Linked DNA regions of Homo sapiens: region 1 is linked to region 2. The links come from fine-mapping of genetic effects on plasma protein levels. A gene starts in region 2. The other region holds a variant in brackets. All regions are shown on one strand. Distances are between the middles of the regions.

Evidence for each region. PIP is the posterior inclusion probability: the model's chance that the variant is causal. Sun 2018 read protein levels with aptamers (SomaScan).
Region 1: its variant is fine-mapped to the plasma level of the EREG protein (Sun 2018, PIP 0.95). The variant lies in the coding sequence of EREG. If it changes the protein, the assay may bind it differently, which can mimic a change of level.

The regions. Positions count from the first base shown.
Region 1 is chr4:74,376,353-74,387,209 of GRCh38, forward strand. EREG (epiregulin) reads left to right here. Exons shown (of 5, transcript NM_001432.3): 2 at 3,096-3,182; 3 at 4,662-4,785; 4 at 6,293-6,442; 5 at 8,375-10,857. The coding sequence ends at 8,456. Among named protein-coding and RNA genes, the nearest start is that of EREG, 17 kb to the left of the region's middle. The variant G/T (reference allele first, on the strand shown) is at 6,436.
Region 2 is chr4:74,361,108-74,371,964 of GRCh38, forward strand. It overlaps EREG (epiregulin), which reads left to right and starts at 4,038. Exons shown (of 5, transcript NM_001432.3): 1 at 4,038-4,268. The coding sequence starts at 4,202. LOC105377276 (a long non-coding RNA gene) reads right to left here and starts at 4,234. Exons shown (of 3, transcript NR_188415.1): 1 at 4,044-4,234.

The sequences.
Region 1 (10,857 bases), 15 kb after region 2:
TTGAAGAAATATGTAGGAATAGGAATGTCAAGGATGTAAGCACGTGCAACTAAAACTCCAATTTGTACCGAGGAAACTGTATTAGTTAAAGGATTTCATTCTTCAGTAGTGAAAGTATGGTGAAATTATTATTGGGATATAAAACAAAATTGACTTGAATGAGAATCTAGCTTATCCTCCATAAAAAGCTTAGTGAAATAGTTTTCAACTCTGTTCAACTGACAATGAAATCTAGGCTTTAGCTATTTCTTTGTCATTCAACAAAAATATATTTTTTGTAGTTCCACAAGAGCAATTGAAGCAGCATTTATATTGTAGAAAAAGCATGGAGTGGGGAGGGGATAATTCTGAACTTTAAAGACAACAGAATTTTCAAATTGTTGAAGAACAGGAGACTTGATTTCAAAAGATAAATTTGTAACTCTTCTCTTCTGTGGTCACAAGTGATCTTAGACAAGACATTTAATTTAAATACACTGAGGGTATTTGAGACTAATAACTACTTCACAGAATTAAGTGTGAAATTTGATATATGAAGTTATACATTATGATGCTGATGCCGATGTGTAATTTACTTTTCAGAACCCAAAAATATACAATCGGCTTAACAGATACAAGCCTTCTCTAACTGAGAAAAAATAAAATTCTTGTATTACACGAATTAAATCTTTCTTTACAGTACCAAATTACAGAGATAGACAAACTTGTTATAAACCAGAAGAGGGCACTGTCCACATACACTGCTAAAACCAGAGGCTAGAAGTTGAGAGTCAAGGAACATTTATGGGCTGTGACAGCCATTTCAGAAAAAAAAAAAAAAAAACATTAGTTTATTTCACTGTATTCTCCCCAAAAATCTATAAGATAGGAAAAATTAACACCCAGAAAAGTAAATTAATTTTTTTTCAAGATCACGTAGCTCAAGTTTTCCTCACAAGACTGCCTTTCCACCATAATTTGTGGCCTCTATGTTGGGTTAAATACTCTACTTCAATTACAGCTATCATAATTTGTTCTCTGTGATGTCCATTATACTCTAGTATTATTGCCTATTTCCAAATTCTATAAAGTGGCCCATTTAACAATATGTATCCTTGGGAAAAGTTATTTAAACTCTTTATGCTTTAGTTTTCTCTAATGGGGATAATAATAGTATCTTCCTCAAATTGGCCCTGAGAGGACTAAATAATATAATACAGATAAGGTGAATAGGACCATACCTGGTTGTATTAGTTTGTTTTCACACTATTATAAAGGACTTCCCTGAGACTGGGTAATTTATAAAGGAAAGAACTTTAATTGACTCACAGTTCTATATGGCTGGGGAAGTCTCAGGAAACTTATCATGGCCGAAGGCGAAGGGGAAGCAAGCCCCTTTTTCACAAGGTGGCAGGAGAGAGAGGCGGGAAGGAGGAACTTCCAAACACTTATAAAACCATCAGATCTCATGAGAACTCACTCACTATCCTGAGAACAGCATGCAGGAAACTACCCGCATTGATTCAATCACCTCCCTCCTTGGACACATGGGGATTACGGGTCCCTCTCTCAATACATGGGGATTGCAATTCCAGATGAGATGTGGGTGGGGACACAGAGCCAAACTATATCACTGGTACATAGTACATGTTCAAGAGATGGATCGTCCTCTGTCTGAACTGTGAAAGAAATGGAAAGTTGAATATATTTTGTTGCCTTTATGGAGGCATTAATCATCCTTTCATAACAGTTACCACTTACTTAGCTACTTCAACGAAACAGGTTGATTCAAACTCTTCCTGTGCTTACAGAAACTGGATTCTCAGTGTGGTTCATCTGGCATGCCTATTCCTTCTCATATTAGATAGGATATATTCTGATTTTACCTAGATTACATTTACCTAGCTGCCTATCAGTCAAGGAGAATTTTCAGGAGTAGGAAGTCATTCTAGTTATCACGCACCCTAGGCCAATAAGCACCGGAATCCAAACGAAAATGTCCAACCGACTAAACAAAATCACATAGGAGGTATTTATTCTCAAAAGACAACCTTTAGGGTGTAGAAAAAGCAAGCTTAACACACATGTCATTATCCCCCACGGTAGGTATTATTCATTTCTTCAAACAAAATATGTCTAATTTTTTTCAAATCTCAGTTCTGAAATTCGTTATTCCCCAAAGCAATTGCAAGCTGAAGCCATTAATTAATTTAGTGGAGCTTAATTGCTGCTACTACTACTACTACCACCACCATTAGTATTTACTATATAACAGTTACTTAAATAAATTGGAAAGAGTGTTTGAAGTGCAAATACCTAAAGCTTAAACAGAAGCAGCTAAAGCTCTTAACTAAACATCTGTGAAATTACAAGGGTTCTTCTTATGATGATTCCTACACAATTCAGAAAGTACTTGAGTCATTCTTGATATCTATGTTCCAAAATTTTATCTTTTCACTGAATACACATGATGAAACAGCTGATTCAGACTCTTCCTATGCTGATAGAAACTGGATTCTAGGGCTCAGTATGGTTCATCTGGGATGCCTGTTCCTCCTCATATTAGACAAGATATATTCTGATTTTACCTAGCTTTCACTGTATTAATTAAAATCTATACTCATGTGTAATGCAATGCAAAGAGTAACTTAGGTACATAAATCAATAATGAATGTTTCTTAGGTTGAGTTTCTTGTTGTTACTGTAAGTGGAAACCGATTTTTTATTTAGAGCCTTTTTTTGTGATGGGGTCTGATTAGGAGCATTTCTCTGAACACATGATGGAATAAAACAGTGGAAATTCTCCAACTGATGTGCGTCTTAAGAAATCAAACTTCAAAATCAAATCTTTGAAAATGTTACTGTGAAATATTTAGAGCAGGTCAAATCTGTAACCGTGAATGTAATGCCAAGGCTTTTATCCTTCCACAGAATAGCTGGGGGAGTTTGTATTTTCTGTTACATGCCTGTTTCCATGAATTATTTTGTTTTATGGTTTTGATGGACCAAATCTGTGAAACAAAACAACTCTATAAGTACTGCAGTTATGTAGAAATTTGATCAAGATTTCTTTCCTTAACACATTAGTTATATATTCGATTTTTCTTCATAAATAGGTTTCCATCTTCTACAGGCAGTCCTCAGTACAACTGTGATTCCATCATGTATCCCAGGAGAGTCCAGTGATAACTGCACAGCTTTAGGTAAGCCCAAGTTTGTCAATGTGGCATCAAGAGACTACATATTTTTAAACAGAAATATAAACTCAAAGACTATAAGTATGTGATAATTTTTTAAAAAAGGGTAAGAATAGCTGCTATATTACTTTTTAAATCACCATATAAACTAATGTTCTGAAAAAATTATATAAAGGAATAACTGGTAGGAGAGGGACCGGATAAATTATATACACAGATTTGATTGTGAAGAGATAGGGAACAACAACAACAAAAAATTGCATTCCCTTTGGCCGTCTCCTGGCACTTTACTGCGAAACATCCTCAGAGACCACACTGACTGGATTCCAGGCAAAACAGCAAAACAGGAAAACTTTGTACAGAATAGGTTCTCTATCTCTCTCTTTCTACCCCTCTCTCTCTCTTTGTAAGAAGAACAAATGATAGTCGTTTCTTTCTAGGCACAGTGTTCATTCAGAAAACATTTATCGAGTATGTAGTATGCACCAAACGCTGTGCTAAGGCATACAGATACAAAGATAAGTAATACAGTTTTTTCCCCTCGAGGACTGTGGACTCCAGATATGGTCCAAGGGGGATCAGCTTTATCTTCATTCTGAGTTATTGAATCAAGATAACTGAGTTATTTTGAGGAAGCAGGATATTTTCCATAACAACTTTATCTTTTGTCCCTCACCATCAGGTTCTCTGGAGGTTTGGTCAGCCTCCTCCGCAGGTTTGGTCAGCCTCCTCCGCATCATCTTTTTTTTTTTCCTTCTTTGGTTATTTGGGCAAGAGTATTACAATCAAATTGCTATTTTAAAAGTAATTTTATAAGCATCTTTCACATTTTGGTATCTAAAGCTTTCTAAAGTGAATTTTACACAAAGGCTCCTATTTTCATTGCTGTTATTTGTCTACCAGAGGCCTTTCTCACTCAGGGTTTGTCTAGTTTGGATTCAGGCCTCATTATCAGAGATATTGGGAGACTGGTTAATTTCATTAATGGTAACCTCAGCAACTTGAAAACATACACCAAAGCCAGCCTTACTGATTAAAAATCCACTGTAGAATTAAGCTCCTTTGAATTAATTAATGGTATGAGCTTGCAACTGCTTTGGGGAGTAATAGATTTCAGAAATGTTTTGGGACTTGAGAAAAATTAGACAAATTTTGCTTGAAGAAATAACACCCACTTGGAGGATAATGACACCTGTGTGTTAAATTTGCCTTCTCTACCCTTACAGGTTGTCTTTTGAGAATGAAATCCTTTCATGTTATCTTCTTTTGTTTAGTCTGTTGGACATTTTCCTTTGGATTCAAGTGTTTATTGATTGGTCTAGGGGGTGTGACAACTAGAGTGACTTCCTACTTCTCAAAATTCTCCTTGACAGATTGGCATCTGACTTGTTGTGTAGAAGTAGTTCAGTGGTTACTGTTATGAAAGAGTGAGAAATTCTTCCATGAAGGCTGCAGAATATATTCAACTTTCCACTTCTTTTACAGTTCAGACAGAAGACAATCCACGTGTGGCTCAAGTGTCAATAACAAAGTGTAGCTCTGACATGAATGGCTATTGTTTGCATGGACAGTGCATCTATCTGGTGGACATGAGTCAAAACTACTGCAGGTAATATGTCAGAAATAAACAAACACAGTTTGTAAAATTTTGTTTTATAGATTTAGGGGTACAAGTGCAGATTTGCTAGTGGATATATTCAGTAGTGGTGAAGTCTGAGCTTTTAGAGTACCTACCCCTCAAATAGTGTGCATGGAACCCATTAGGTAATTTTTCATCCCTTAACCCCCCCAAAACTCTTCTACCTTTTGAAGTCTCCAGAGTCTATTACTCCACTCTCTATGACCATGTGTACACATTATTTAGCTCCCACTTGTGAGAACATGTGATAAACAAATGCAGTTTTACTCTTTGTATTTCTATTTTTATATTTTGAAATTACCCTATATTTCCATGGGCTGTTAAATGCAGTATATATATTATTAGAAACTTTTCTGAGTTTTTAAAAATTAGGTAGTAAATAGTAGCTTTTAAATTGCACACATATGTCAGAGGTGCAGAGCAGGGAGGACTTCTGATGCTTCTCACACTTGCCAAGATGGTGTCTCTCTGCTTTGGATCTTTTCCTTCAATTTCTATATCAGGTATTGTTTTAAGAATTGATTCCAGGCCGGACGCGTTGGCTCATGCCTGTAATCCCAGCACTTTGGGAGGCCGAGGCGGGCGGATCACGGGGTCAGGAGATCAAGACCATCCTGGCGAACACGGTGAAACCCCGTCTCTACTAAAAATACAAAAAAAAAAAAAAATTAGCCAGGGGTAGTGGCGGACGCCTGAAGTCCCAGCTACTCGGGAGGCTGAGGCAGGAGAATGGCATGAACCCGGGGGGTGGAGCTTGCAGTGAGCGGAGATCATGCCACTGTACTCCAGCCTGGGCAACACAGCGAGACTCCGTCTCAAAAAAAAAAAAAAAAAAAAAAAAAAGAATTGATTCCAGGCCAGGCGCAGTGGCTCAACCCTGTAACCCCAGCACTTTGGGAGGCTGAGGCGGGCAGACCACTTGAGGTCAGGAGTTCCTGACCAGCCTGGCCAACATGGTGAAACCCCGCCTCTACTAAAAATACAAAAATTAGCGAGGCGTGGTGGCGCAAGACTGTAGTCTACTCAGGAGGCTGAGATAGGAGAATTGCTTGAACCTGGGAGGCGGAGGTTGCAGTGAGCCGAGAGATCACACCACTGCTATCCAGCCTGGGCGACAGAACGAGACTCCATCTCAAAAAAACCAAACAGACAAACAAACAAAAAAAGAATTGATTCCACTGATTTAGACAAAAGGAATCTCAAACCTGTACAACTTACAAAACACCACTGTGGACTGTCAGCCACCATGACAGCTGAACACAACCGTCATTTTAATACTACAATTTAGTCCAAGAGCTACGTGGAGCCCTTTTATCATTACTGGTCTAACTCAATCTTTGAAATCCTCTTTACAATCTTTAGCAAATTTTGTTGATTTCTTGCATTACAGTGTGATGTTAGTCCTTATAAAACTAATTCATAACCATGATTTCCTTTTTAAGTAACTGATCTTTCTTTCTTCCGTATTTTCCTTCAGGTGTGAAGTGGGTTATACTGGTGTCCGATGTGAACACTTCTTTTTAACCGTCCACCAACCTTTAAGCAAAGAATATGTGGCTTTGACCGTGATTCTTATTATTTTGTTTCTTATCACAGTCGTCGGTTCCACATATTATTTCT[G/T]CAGATGGTAAGTCAGTGTGGTTTTATACTCTGCTTTTACAAATTACTTTTACATAATGCAGACCTATAAACTGGGTAAAAATATGGATAAAGTATTAGAGAGATAAGATCAAACCTGTACAAATGATATTTACAAGAGTTGAGAAACTATTAAGTATTATGCCCAACACCTGAGTGATGGGATCAGCTGTACCCCTAATCTCAGCATCATACAATATATCCTGTTAAGAAACCTGCATGTGTACCCCCGAATCTGAAATAACTTGAAATTATTTTTTAAAAATATGTTTTTGCTGCAGAACATCTGGATTGAACTTTATTATCAGCTCTGATACTTATTACCTATGTGACCTTACATAAGTCAAATTGAGAGTATCAATTCCCTTCTTTATCAAATATGGACAGAAATTATTATCTTACATTAGTTATAGGGTGGTTGCTTTTAGTATGTAATATGATATTTCATGTGAAAGTAAATCATAGGATAGGTGCTACTGTTATAGTTAACCACCTGAATTTAATTCCTCAAGTCACATTTTTTATTTTATAAAAAACAACCTTGTAAATTAATAACCTTAGAAGCTTGGGTTATCTTACAGTTTAAGGCAGACTGGTGGAACTATTTCTAGACAATTATAAAAAATGGTTGTTAAAAAATAGTTTGTGTCAGTCCCCCAAAACAGTCGTACCTCATCCTCATGTGCATTATTGTCACAAGCTGAAAACAGAAAAATAGAAAGTGAACATTGAAAGTATAGTTTGGCATTTTTTTAAGGGTTAGGAGCAAAGGATGGGAACAGTGTGAATTAATTAATAACAGTTCCCTTTAAAATGTCTCCATGAAACATATTTTGAAACAGTTACAAATTACTCAAGGTGAATTTACGTTTTTATTTTTCTGTGAAAGTAGTGCACTTCCAATTTTGAAGGTCTGAAAGTGTGCTACTTTCATAATATTAAATTTATTTTGTCCACATTTGATTCTAAGTATCCATCAAATAATAATGCCTTCCTAATAAGTTGCCATGACAGAACTAAATATTATTAAAACTGAAATATGCCTGCAAATCTTTGACCACAATCCTTTCCTTTATAGATGGGGCACTGAGGTTTAGAGAGGTTCATTCAAATATCCCAGCTCATATAGTTGACAAATGCCAGAGTGAAGAACAAATTCTTTCTAATTCATATTCTTACAGTAAACATAGACATGATGTGGTTTCCTCAAAGCTACATGTCTTATTTCCAAAATAGGGACAAAATAAACTCAAAAATATTAGGAAAATAGCTTAATGAATAAATGAAAGAAGATTCTAAATTATGATAAATCTATGAATCCTAGCTATGAGACCTTGGACCTTGGGCACATTATATACAACCCATTTGTATTTCACTTTCTTCATCTGTAAGATGAGGATGGTAACAGCAAATGTGAGAGTAAAATAAATAATGCATGTATAGCACTTAGAAAATTGTAGGTCACCAAATTAGTGCCTGATAAATATTATTTTTATTTTGATTAGTGATAGCATTATATCAATGTGATGGAAAGAGTGTATTAATGTAGCATGATTTGTAAATATTCATTCCTTAGAAGGGAGGAAGGAAAAAGAAAGAGAGACAGAAAAAGAAAACCTAAAATTCAGACTTAAATGTGGCCACACGCCTCTTGGAATTTCACAATATTCATGATCACGTTAAAGACTTTGAGAAACTCTTTAAGTGTATTTTATCATTTCATTCCAAAATTGTTTGACTACAGCACATCACCTCTTCATCCCTCTTTTTTTTTTTTTTTTTAACATTGTCCAACCTAAATCTGTTCAACTTTGTCATTTTGGAAACACTATGCTAATGTGCCTTTGGAGTCCATATATAACACACTTGTTCCTTTGCTATTAACTGCAGTGCTAACAGTTTCGTTTGTGAATATTTCCAGGTACAGAAATCGAAAAAGTAAAGAACCAAAGAAGGAATATGAGAGAGTTACCTCAGGGGATCCAGAGTTGCCGCAAGTCTGAATGGCGCCATCAAACTTATGGGCAGGGATAACAGTGTGCCTGGTTAATATTAATATTCCCATTTTATTAATAATATTTATGTTGGGTCAAGTGTTAGGTCAATAACACTGTATTTTAATGTACTTGAAAAATGTTTTTATTTTTGTTTTATTTTTGACAGACTATTTGCTAATGTATAATGTGCAGAAAATATTTAATATCAAAAGAAAATTGATATTTTTATACAAGTAATTTCCTGAGCTAAATGCTTCATTGAAAGCTTCAAAGTTTATATGCCTGGTGCACAGTGCTTAGAAGTAAGCAATTCCCAGGTCATAGCTCAAGAATTGTTAGCAAATGACAGATTTCTGTAAGCCTATATATATAGTCAAATCGATTTAGTAAGTATGTTTTTTATGTTCCTCAAATCAGTGATAATTGGTTTGACTGTACCATGGTTTGATATGTAGTTGGCACCATGGTATCATATATTAAAACAATAATGCAATTAGAATTTGGGAGAAGCAAATATAGGTCCTGTGTTAAACACTACACATTTGAAACAAGCTAACCCTGGGGAGTCTATGGTCTCTTCACTCAGGTCTCAGCTATAATTCTGTTATATGAGGGGCAGTGGACAGTTCCCTATGCCAACTCACGACTCCTACAGGTACTAGTCACTCATCTACCAGATTCTGCCTATGTAAAATGAATTGAAAAACAATTTTCTGTAATCTTTTATTTAAGTAGTGGGCATTTCATAGCTTCACAATGTTCCTTTTTTGTATATTACAACATTTATGTGAGGTAATTATTGCTCAACAGACAATTAGAAAAAAGTCCACACTTGAAGCCTAAATTTGTGCTTTTTAAGAATATTTTTAGACTATTTCTTTTTATAGGGGCTTTGCTGAATTCTAACATTAAATCACAGCCCAAAATTTGATGGACTAATTATTATTTTAAAATATATGAAGACAATAATTCTACATGTTGTCTTAAGATGGAAATACAGTTATTTCATCTTTTATTCAAGGAAGTTTTAACTTTAATACAGCTCAGTAAATGGCTTCTTCTAGAATGTAAAGTTATGTATTTAAAGTTGTATCTTGACACAGGAAATGGGAAAAAACTTAAAAATTAATATGGTGTATTTTTCCAAATGAAAAATCTCAATTGAAAGCTTTTAAAATGTAGAAACTTAAACACACCTTCCTGTGGAGGCTGAGATGAAAACTAGGGCTCATTTTCCTGACATTTGTTTATTTTTTGGAAGAGACAAAGATTTCTTCTGCACTCTGAGCCCATAGGTCTCAGAGAGTTAATAGGAGTATTTTTGGGCTATTGCATAAGGAGCCACTGCTGCCACCACTTTTGGATTTTATGGGAGGCTCCTTCATCGAATGCTAAACCTTTGAGTAGAGTCTCCCTGGATCACATACCAGGTCAGGGAGGATCTGTTCTTCCTCTACGTTTATCCTGGCATGTGCTAGGGTAAACGAAGGCATAATAAGCCATGGCTGACCTCTGGAGCACCAGGTGCCAGGACTTGTCTCCATGTGTATCCATGCATTATATACCCTGGTGCAATCACACGACTGTCATCTAAAGTCCTGGCCCTGGCCCTTACTATTAGGAAAATAAACAGACAAAAACAAGTAAATATATATGGTCATATACATATTGTATATATATTCATATACAAACATGTATGTATACATGACCTTAATGGATCATAGAATTGCAGTCATTTGGTGCTCTGCTAACCATTTATATAAAACTTAAAAACAAGAGAAAAGAAAAATCAATTAGATCTAAACAGTTATTTCTGTTTCCTATTTAATACAGCTGAAGTCAAAATATGTAAGAACACATTTTAAATACTCTACTTACAGTTGGCCCTCTGTGGTTAGTTCCACATCTGTGGATTCAACCAACCAAGGACGGAAAATGCTTAAAAAATAATACAACAACAACAAAAAATACATTATAACAACTATTTACTTTTTTTTTTTTCTTTTTGAGATGGAGTCTCGCTCTGTTGCCCAGGTTGGAGTGCAGTGGCACGATCTCGGCTCACTGCAACCTCACCTCCCGGGTTCAAGAGATCCTCCTGCCTCAGCCTCCTGAGCAGCTGGGACTACAGGCGCATGCCACCATGCCCAGCTAATTTTTGTATTTTTAGTAGAGGCGGGGTTTCACCATGTTGGCCAGGATGGTCTCAATCTCCTAACCTTGAGATCCACCCTCCACAGCCTCCCAAACTGCTGGGATTACAGGTGTGAGCCACCGCACGTAGCATTTACATTAGGTATTACAAGTAATGTAAAGATGATTTAAGTATACAGGAGGATGTGAATAGGTTATATGCAAGCACTATGCCCTTTTATATAAGTGACTTGAACATCTGTGCCCGATTTTA
Region 2 (10,857 bases):
GGGCATGGTGGCTCACGCCTGTGATCCCAGCACTTTGGGAGGCTGAGGCAGGTGGATCACCTGAGGTCAGGAGTTTGAGACCAGCCTGACTTACATGGTGAAATCCTGTCTCTACTAAAAATACAAAATTAGTTGGGTATCGGGGTGCATGCCTGTAATCCAAGCTACCCTAGAGGCTCAGGCAGGAGAATCACTTGAACCCAGGAGGCGGAGGTTGCAGTGAGCCAAGATCGTGCCATTGCACTCCAACCTGGGCAACAAGAATGAAACTCCGTCTCGAAAAAATATATATATCATAAAAGGCATAAATTTTTCATTTACATGGAGCTTGCTAAAAATATCCTGTATGATTAACATACAATTAAATTTATAATGTTAATTAAAAATTAGCATCTGCTAGAACAGAATTCATATTTAAGGTCTTTTTTATATTAAATGTAACAATTTGATCTTGAACACGTTCCTAAATTTTTCAAGTTCTTAATTGTAAAAAGGCAACCCAATACCATTTTATCTCAGTGGTTTTTGCTAAGGACTAAAAAACGACTTAAAACATTTTGTGTTATGTAAAAACTAATTCACTCAAGTAGCTATGCTCATTTTTTTAGTTAGAAAAGCAGTAATTTCATAATAAATAAGTGCCAGTTATAGTCAGAAGAAACAATAACCTGAGGGAAAGAGGAAGAGATGGAAGAATTGTAACGTGTTCTATGTCCTTGTCTGTTGCTAAATGCTGGTTCTATGGGTAGGGCCCAGGGCTTCATCTGAGTGCAGGCTACAATAGGTTTAATACTGATATCAGTTTGGGGCCTGTGTGTGTATGTCCCCAGTCTAGGATTTCCTAATTCTTCTCATGAGAGGACTCCCTTTTAATTTAAAAGGATTATTTTTTGCAAGACTCTTCTTCCCCATTTAACGGCGCTTATATGTTTGTTATATATCAACGAAAAAACACATGCCACAAAGCGTTTATGAATTCAATATCAATTTAAAATGAATACATGTTACTAATTACATAGAGACTTAATGTATGTTTAAAATAGTATATATATGTGTGTGTGTGTGTGTGTGTGTGTGTGTGTGTGCGCGCGCTTTAGTCTATAGATAATTCGATTTACCAACCCCTTGGAAAGGAATCCCAGTACATCTCAAACTGGGAATTGCTGACATTGCTGATGTATTAAAGTGACTTCCTAATTGGAAAATTCTATATGACCCGGTTATTTTCTTCCCAAACCATTCTATCTTTAAATAAGCTTTGTGCCTTTAAGAGGAATTATGATTATACCGCATACTATGTATATATATTTAAATGAACAATTAATGAAAATTGTTCCCAATTATTTAAAAAAAAAAAAGAAGAAGAATACTATTTTGCGGAGGCAGTGCGTGCAAATCCTCTGATGTGTCATGGTGGAGTCATTCTCAATATCTAATGGCTAGAAAATTGAGTAAACATAGAACTAATAAAGAAAAGATTTCTTCACATCATATAAAATCAGCCTACAAAAGAGTACATTGCTGTGGAAAATTTTGAGACAAGCACAGGGATTTTTTTCACAGTGATGATATCTCATGCTTGCAGGCATTAGTTACAAAGTTAAAAAATTCCTCTTCACATATCAATACCATAGAAGTGACTGTTGTCAATTATTGTCAGCATGACCCATTCTCCCCATCACATCCCCACCATCTTTCTTTTCAGCATAAAACACACTATATTTAAAGAAACAAGCCATTAATCAGGATTAAAAACTCTTCCTCTCACTCTTTGCAAGTACCTGATAGAAAATGCTCCCAGTTGACATTCCATTCGTTTGAATTCTGCTTCCATTCCTCAAAAACACTGGGACTATTTTTTTTTCCAGATCCAATTTGTAGGACAAAAGCCATTATATAACCATAAAAGTCACTTTACCTCTTTCTAATTTATGAAACTTGTGATCTCTACCAATGCTCCATAAAACTATAACCCATTTCTAATATCATTTTCCTTGGTTCCATTTCTTCTTTTCCAAAATAAGCTATTAAGTGAGAAGTCACTCAATGCCTGCTTTCTTGATAGATTTGGAAGCTAGACTTAGGAACCCAGCCTACCTCTATCCTACTGTTCATTGATTCATTTAACTTACAAATATTGACCAACTACCAAGTACCACCATCTTAAGCATCAACGTTTGCATATAATGGTAGGTATTTTTAGTGAGCACTAACTCGGTACTAGGCACTCTACTAAGCACTTTCATTATTTTCCTATGCGCTGGATACTATTATTATCCCTGTTTTACGTATGAGGAAATTGAGACAGATTAAATAACTTGTCCAGGAATTCACACACAGACAGTTTAAATCTTAACCCCTGATAACATGATGAAGTATTTGTTTCTTTTTTTTTTTTTTTTGAGACGGAGTTTCGCTCTGTCGCCCAGGCTGGAGTGCAGTGGCGCGATCTCGACTCACTGCAAGCTCCGCCTCCCGGGTTCACGCCATTCTCCTGCCTCAGCCTCCCGTGTAGCTGGGACTACAGGCGCGCGCCACCATGCCCGGCTAATTTTTGTATTTTTAGTAGAGACGGGGTTTCACTGTGTTATCCAGGATGGTCTCGATCTCCTGACCTCGTGATCCGCTCGTCTCGGCCTCCCAAAGTGCTGGGATTACAGGCGTGAGCCACCGCGCCCGGCCGAAGTATTTGTTTCTAACAAGAGCATTCTGGACATTAAAGGGCCTTAGAGTATGAGAGAAAAAAGCCAGAAAAAAAAAAGGAATAGTAATAATAATTTTTTAAAAAGTAGAAATAAAAAGGTAAGGAGTTAACATCCATTAGATTCCATTTTCTATTCAAATATGTATATTTACATACAGTACTGCTGAATTGACTCACAGTTCTTAGGTCCTATAGAGGAGTGCAGTGAAAAGGAAGACAATTTACACAGTACAGAGCTGAACATAGGACTTACAAACAAAAAAAAAGTCAAGGAATACAAAGTAGCTTTCCCAGGTGTAAAGTACCGGGTCTAGAATTCTATGAGGCTAGGGAGAAGATAAACGACAAAAGCTATAAGAGATCAGAATGAAAAGAGATCCACAAGCCTAAGAAGCCCAGGCCCTTGAGGAGAACCATGAATTTGAGCAGGATTTCACTAATTCCTTTAAAAAGTAGCCATTGCCTCAAAGTACGACTCCATCAGCATAGGCAGGAAAGTGGGAGTGAGGAAAGGCTTAGAGTTTTCCAGCCTGGCTGGGGTCAGACAATTTGCCTGGGGAAATAGTGGGAGCTGAGGTTGAAAAGACCGATTGGCTTCACGTTTGTGGCAGGCCTTGTCCAAAAAGCAATAGGAAGTCGTTGAAAGGTTTTGTGCAGGGGAGCGACAGGATTAAGGCACTACTTAGTAGGAAGTCATATCAAAAGCAGCAACCTGACAAATGGCAAATACGACAGAAGGAAAAAAAATAACAGGAATTTTCTTCACAATGACTCGACTTTGAGGTAATAAATGCCTGAGCCACATTGGAAGCAGGGGTCTCAGAAGGAAGGCGCAGATGGGAAAGGCTTTTCTGGGCGGTGGCGTTTCAATGCAAGGAGGGCGCTTGAATCACTGACAGACTTCAAGTTAAGGGAGTTTTCGTGGCTGAGGTTAGTAAGTCACACGCACAGCTCTCCAAAGGCATGTATGGGGAACGCCAGCCTTGGCTAAAAGACTGATTCAAGTTATGTCCGTCACCCTGAGCAACCAAAACCACCCACTACAGGGCAGGTGACCCCACAAAGCAAACCAAGCCATCTGGTCCACGCTCCCCACCTCCCGGAGGGAGATGGAAAAGTTTCGGGAGTAGTCCCCGGCCAATCGGAAAGACATTTTTTCATTCCTCAACCACTACTCTCAGGTGCTCCAGGGAGGGAGGATGACTTCCTGACGGTCCTCCTGCCGCTCCTCCCTCGGGCCAATTATGAAACTCTGGGCACTCTTGACCTCACCCCGTTAGGGCCCGGGAGGGGCTCCCTAGTATAAAGTTCGCAGCACCAGACAGTTGAGCTCACTTGCCTGATATTTCCAGTGTCAGAGGGACACAGCCAACGTGGGGTCCCTTCTAGGCTGACAGCCGCTCTCCAGCCACTGCCGCGAGCCCGTCTGCTCCCGCCCTGCCCGTGCACTCTCCGCAGCCGCCCTCCGCCAAGCCCCAGCGCCCGCTCCCATCGCCGATGACCGCGGGGAGGAGGATGGAGATGCTCTGTGCCGGCAGGGTCCCTGCGCTGCTGCTCTGCCTGGGTAAGTTCTCCCCCTCTGGCTTCCGGCCGCCCCAAAGAGGAGACAAATAAGGAAGGCTCCTGTGCATTTGTCATTCGACAAGTACGGAGTTGTCTCCAGGTTCAAGTGTGCTCTATTTAAAATTACGTCTTGTTTTGTGAGTCTGTCTTCCCCTATGGTGGGACTGGGGTGGGGGGGACTGGGGATCGATGTTAAAATGCTTTTTATTGGTGAATTAATTATTGGCATATATGTTATGCATGGATTGAAATATCTCCTTATTAAACAAAATAAAAAGTTGTTGAAAAAGCTTTTTTTTTTTTTTTGAAAAGTTGCCAGTCCTAGAAATCTAAAGGCCTGGAACGCACTGTTAACATTTCATGTCTTGTTCCTTTTTGTTGGAGAGTGGGGAATAGAAACTAGCGTAAGAAATTTTTTGGAGGGGGGAAAAAGCTTTTCTCCTCTGTCTTGCGCTCAGTTTTCTAAAACCTAGCCTGGTTTAGCTTTCCCGGAGGAGCTGGTATGCGCCAGTGCCAGTTGGCTGAGCTCCAGACACAAGAGAAATAAAACACTGGTCGAGGGTATCTGGAGCAGAAGGGCCCTGGGCAGGTCCTGGCGCTCCCCACCGCCCTTCGCCCCTACACCTGCTGCTTGCGTTTTTCCCTGCAGCCTCCCAAGCAGCCTCTGGAGCAAGCGTTCTGCACTTGCTGCTAATTGCACTCCATAGCCTGTGATCGCTGAGGGTATTTAAATGCCAGTCTTCCTATTTGAGATGATTTAGTTCAAGGGGAAAAATTTTCTAAATAGCCTTTCTGTTAAAAAAAAATTACTTCTTTCCAATTCCTTAAACTTCAGTTTAAGGAATTTGAAAGAGTTTGAAGTCGTATATGAATATCTTAATAAAAAAATAAAAGTTACCACCAGTCTCATATTCTCCCTGGAGTTGGAATGAGGCTGATTCCCCAGACACTCTAACTCTACCTGTGAAGGATGTGACTGTTAAATTATTATTTTGGCACACCTTATCTCAGGGGTTGAGAGACCTAATGAAATGCATACTATGCATAATTGAAACTTACAAGTCTAAGTCCAGGAACACAAGTGGAAACTAGATATGTGGTTTCTGCCAAAACTGAGCTAAGAAAGACTTGCTAGAAGATTCTCAGTAAACAATGTGGCTTTGCTGTCTTTGTTTTGAAAAGAATTAAATTAGAAAGGTGACAGTCTTCCTAGAGTTAGAAATTAACCTCGAGGTCAGAATAACTTAGCACTTATTATTTTCCCCACATGTAAGGTTGCATCTGAACAATGCACATGTCTGTTCTGGGTGTTTCATTGAATATTCTAATTTGAGACAGCCAGAGCCTGTGAATAACCTGGTTACTACCCACTAGTGTGTGTGTTGTGTGTGTGTTTGTTGTCATGAAAGTGCTTACCTCCTTCATTGCATTACTTAATTATAGTTCATCTATTTCGTCAGCTGCCAAGCCCATTTCCAAATGAGTTAGGTCAGTTTCTGTTTTCCCAGTTTGTTTGGATATTTCTCTGCCACTAGGAAAGTTCCTGTTTCAAGTTCTGTATTATATCTCTAAACTCTATTCAGTTATGCAGAGCCCATAGCCTTATTTTGGCAAGACCACCTGTTATTTCTGAAATTGCCTTCTTTCCCCCAAACAAAATATTTCCTAAAAATACTTTTCCCAAATCTTGTCCTTCCCCCAGCAAAAAAGAGCGAGACATTTATTTTAAATTTTAGCATACATGTTATAACTGCTTTATGTAGTTATGACTAGGGAATAAAGTTCCAGCCTCCACCCTTAACACATACAGATTTAAATTGCTATGCACAATCATTTGGTTACTTTTAAATTTTACACTTGTTTAATATTGAGGCTCTTGTTTTATAAATTGGGGAACTGTGACCCAAGTTCACATAGAAAAATAGTGACAAAGTGAGAGTCCACACTTGGGCTTGCTAGCATTTTTGGCCTACTGAACATTAAGTAGAAGAGTTGAAATACCGGATAACATTTTTTTAAATAATCTATAATTTTAGAGCAGAATTTTGTCTTTTTTATCTTGTGATTTTTCTAAAGAGAGGAGGATAAATTTTTATGTTGAATTCTGCAGTTATGTTCAGGGGCTTTCTATTTAACATCAAACATTTTTATTCATGCCTACATGGGTTTTTGAATATGTTCCTGAATGACATCTCCAAGATAATTTAGTCGTACTTCATCAATGAGAGAGAATTAAGCAGAAGAAATATTCTTTTTTGAAAATATGAGGAGCATAAATCTCAATGAGACAATAGGCTTGTCTTTGATCATTTCTGTTGACTCTGAGAGTTTATGAGTTACCTGAGTCTTGGCACAACCTGAGATGACAAATCTTGTCAGAAAACGTGATGACAGGCCTTTCCTGTCTGGATTTTGACCAGGTACCCTCACCACCTTCTGCACAGTCTTGCCATGTGAGCAGCTTGGGTAATTGGGGTGTCTGATTCAGCACTAAGACCCAAATCCAGGAGTTGAGAAGAAAACTAACAGTTACTAAATGCCTACTGTGTGGCAGCCATGTTGTGTATTAGGTGCTTTAAATACATCATCACCTCTACTTCTTAAAATAACTGTGTGAGGTAGATTTGATTAGCCCAGTGAAGTCAAGTACCTTACAAAGACTCAGAGATAGTAAATGGCCAGGTCACTCTGTGATAATGAGGAAAGAGCCAATGAGATTCAGGGTTAGCAGGAGCATAATAAACATAGCAGATTCTAATAGAGAAGTTCCAGAGTAGCTGGGGCTGCTCCAGGGTTCAGACCCTCTCATAGGCACAGCACATGTACAAATGGACTTTCTGACTCTGTGCAAAATCAGGCAAATAAAAGGTGACTATTCTCTTAAGCTGTGCTAAAATATGTTGAATTTTTACTTAATGTTCATAATTTCTAATCAACACAGTTCCCCTAAGATATGATTTTTATTATGAAGCAGTCATTGAAGTCAGTTGACTGGGGCCCTTATTTTTATATTTTCCAAGGTTTACATTAAGTAAAGCAATAAAGAGGGTAACTTATGTCTGTTTTATTCCTTGTATTCTTTGTATATTATTGTGAATTGGATATAGCATTGATAAGGGATCAACTTGGGATCTATAGCCCATTCCTGTTAACTGTGAGAACGTAAATGTATTTCCTTGGTTTAAAAAAAATAACAATACTCATATAATCACTTCGGAGAAACTGAATTTGAATGTTTTCTGTCTATTTTTGCAAAAGAATCTCCCATTTCCTGGTTAATGTTCACGTGAAAGATGCAAATGTCAAGTAAGAAATCCTCTTCAAAGAGAATGTAAATTAAGGTGGGGTTTCCTCATCTGTCAATCTTTACTTTGAGTGTAGGCCTGTACAAATCGTCTAATTAATATGGCTGTAACTGCTGCTGGGAACATTCCATCGGGAGACAATGAGAACACTTCCCAGTGGTGTAATAGAAGAGATCCTCAGGGAGGAGTAGTCTGACAGCCATTGCCTTGACATGGCAATTCTGGAACCTTTGAAAAAATGAAGTAATGCCACATACTCAGCGTCTTCTGGAGATGCAGTTTACCTAAGACTGGGTGTTTAGTTATAGGGCACATAAAGGTTGAGTGGCCTTCTAGGTTAAAGTAATGATTTAACTTACTAGGATACTATTTATAATACTCAGGATGATTTGATAATTGTCCAGAAAAAAATGGATTTTTTAATATATCTCATAAGACTCTTAATATATAGGTTTATCCTCCATCTCCTTTTTTAAAAATTTCAGTAGCATTTGGGGTACAATTGGTTTTTTGTTACGTGGGTGAATTCTATAGTGGTGAATTGTGAGATTTTAGTGCGCCTATCACCTGAGTAGTGTACATTGTACCTAATGTGTAGTTTTTTTTCAATCCCTAGCCCACCTTCCACCCTTCCCCTTCTGAGTCTCTAAAGTCCATTATATCACTCTGTATGCCTTTGTGTACTCATAGTACATAGTACATAGTACATAGTACTCATAGTACACATAGTACATGTATAAGTGAGAACATATGGTTTTTTGGTTTTCCACTCCTGTGTTACTTCACTTGGAATAATGGCCTCCAGCTCCATCCAATTTGCTGCGAAAGACATTATTTCATTCCTTTTAATGGCTGAGTAGTATTCCATGGATATATGGATGTATTCCATGGAGATATATGTAATATTCAGAAAGAAAAGTATTAAACATTAATCTTTTAGGTTAAAAATTCTCAATTTTAAATTTGAGGCATGAAAGTGATTGATACGTGCACACACACACACATCTTTATATATGTAAGTTTTATAGTCTTGAACTAAGAGGCATAGTGTATAGTGTATAAAATACAGATTTCATGCACCAGTTTTTTCTTTCATACTTTCAGAAAGAGTGATTTATCTCTGAGCCTCAGTTTTCTCATCCGAAAAAAAAAAGGTTGTCCACAATAACCTTGTCAGGTAATTGTATGTAGATTTAATGGATAAGATGATACATGAATTCATAGAAAGCACTTTTAAAATTAGAGCTGTCATCATAAAAATGGTTTCTTACAAAAAAAAAAGCCTCATTTAGTTCTTAGGATGCCTTTTTAGCCCAGAAAGTTGTTATTGTTCCCGTTTTACAAATGAGGAAACAGGAGTACACAGCATGTAAGGCTTTGGGTTTGAATACGCTTGTATCCTTTACTGTCAATGCCCTCAAGTCACTCTTTACTTTTGGTGAAAGTACTCATCCTTTAAGACTGAAAAAGGAGCCACTTCCTTAGGCACTTCTCTGATAAGCCCTGACCCTCCTCCATTGCACCTTTCCCATTCCTTTTGTCCTATGGCCCTGTCACACCACACATCACACTGTAAGTGTGTGTATAACTCTATCCCTCCTTGCTGGTGCTATAGTCATCTTTTATCATTTCTATTGTGATAGGCTTATATTAAACACAATTAATATTTGCTAGATGGATGATCACATTGATACTTTATTTGGAGTTATCACCACTATGTTATAGACTCAATTAGCTGCACTTTAAAAATGTATTTAAAAATATTAAAAAAGATATTTTGAGAAGCAAAATACCTAGAGGTTAAGTAACAGTTTTGGAAAATTCAATTCTGTTGTTGTTTCTGATGAAGTCTAATAAGTTTTCTTCTCTCTCTTTCACATTTTTATCTCTTATTATATTATTATATTATTCAGTATTAACTGAAGATATTTGTGTGTGTGTGTGTGTGAGAGAGAGAGATAGAGAGAGAGAGACAGAAAGAGAGGAAGAGAGGAAGAGAGAGGGGTTACTGAGCTATGATATGACTGAATAAAGTGGCAGTGATATGACTGCCAGTGGCAGAAAGAGAAGCATTGTTTTAGAAATTAAAGAAACCTTAGAGAAATCTAATCCAAACTTCATTTCACCCTCTACCCCACCTCATTCCTTGTTCTCTGTTTTCAGAGATAAGGCAGCTCAGTTGCAGGGAAACAAAATAAGTATGTGAGCTAGAACTGGATTCCATTTCTCATGAGTCTAATGCAGGGTTTTTCAACCTTGTCTCAGTTGACATTAGGGACTAAATAATTCTTTGTTGCAGGGAGGCTGTCCTATGCATTGCAGGGTGTTTAGCAGCAACCCTGGTCTCTACCCACTAGATGTCAGTAGCATCCCCAGTCGTGACAACCATCATAGTCTCCAGACATTACCATATGGTAGCAATGGTCCCCAGGAGCAATTTTGCCAATGAGGGATACAATTTTGCCAACCTTGGTTGGCAATTTTGCTCCTGGTTTAGAACCAATAACATAAAATATACTTTTTTTTAATTGCTGTTACACATTGCCACCCATACTTCACAGTTTGGAAAATTAGTGCTTGAGTTACCAAGACAAAATTAATTTTAATGATAATCTGGATACAAATATAAAGCCCATTCTCATGTTTAAAAAATCAGCTTGGCAATATTTATTGCTGATTTTAGCACCGTTCACATCTAATAATGATGAGTCTTATTTACGATGGAATCATGAATACTGTCTCTGATTATTCCTTTGATAACCACCCTTTACTTCCTTTTACAACTCTACTCTCTTAGCTCTCAGCAAACTTAATTTTCTTTTTTCTCTAATTTCTTTTTCTCTTTTCTTTGCCACTTCTGTCTGCTCTCTACCACCTGTTTCTCAAAGTTCTGTTATTTTCCAGTTCATACTGTTTTCCTTGGAACATATAAATGTCTTCCATTCCTTTAAAGGCAGTATCTCCTCATATGACTTTCAAATAGACTTCTCCTAATCTCCAAATAAATTCTTATTCCTTTACTGTATTCCCAACAGCCTCAAAAATATAAATAGGTAATACCTATAGATAAACATTAAACTCAAATATGTTCACTCCCTTCATGCCTTCATGCCCAAATGCCACCACAAGCCTGCTGTCCTGCCTATGTCTCCTCCTTTTTTAATGGCAGCATTCTCTGTTTTTTTTTTTTCTGACTAGAAACTTGGCATCATCTATAAATTCTCTCCTTTCCTTACCACCCTTAGGTGTCCAACTTCTTTAAGTCTATTTAGGGCAGGAACAATG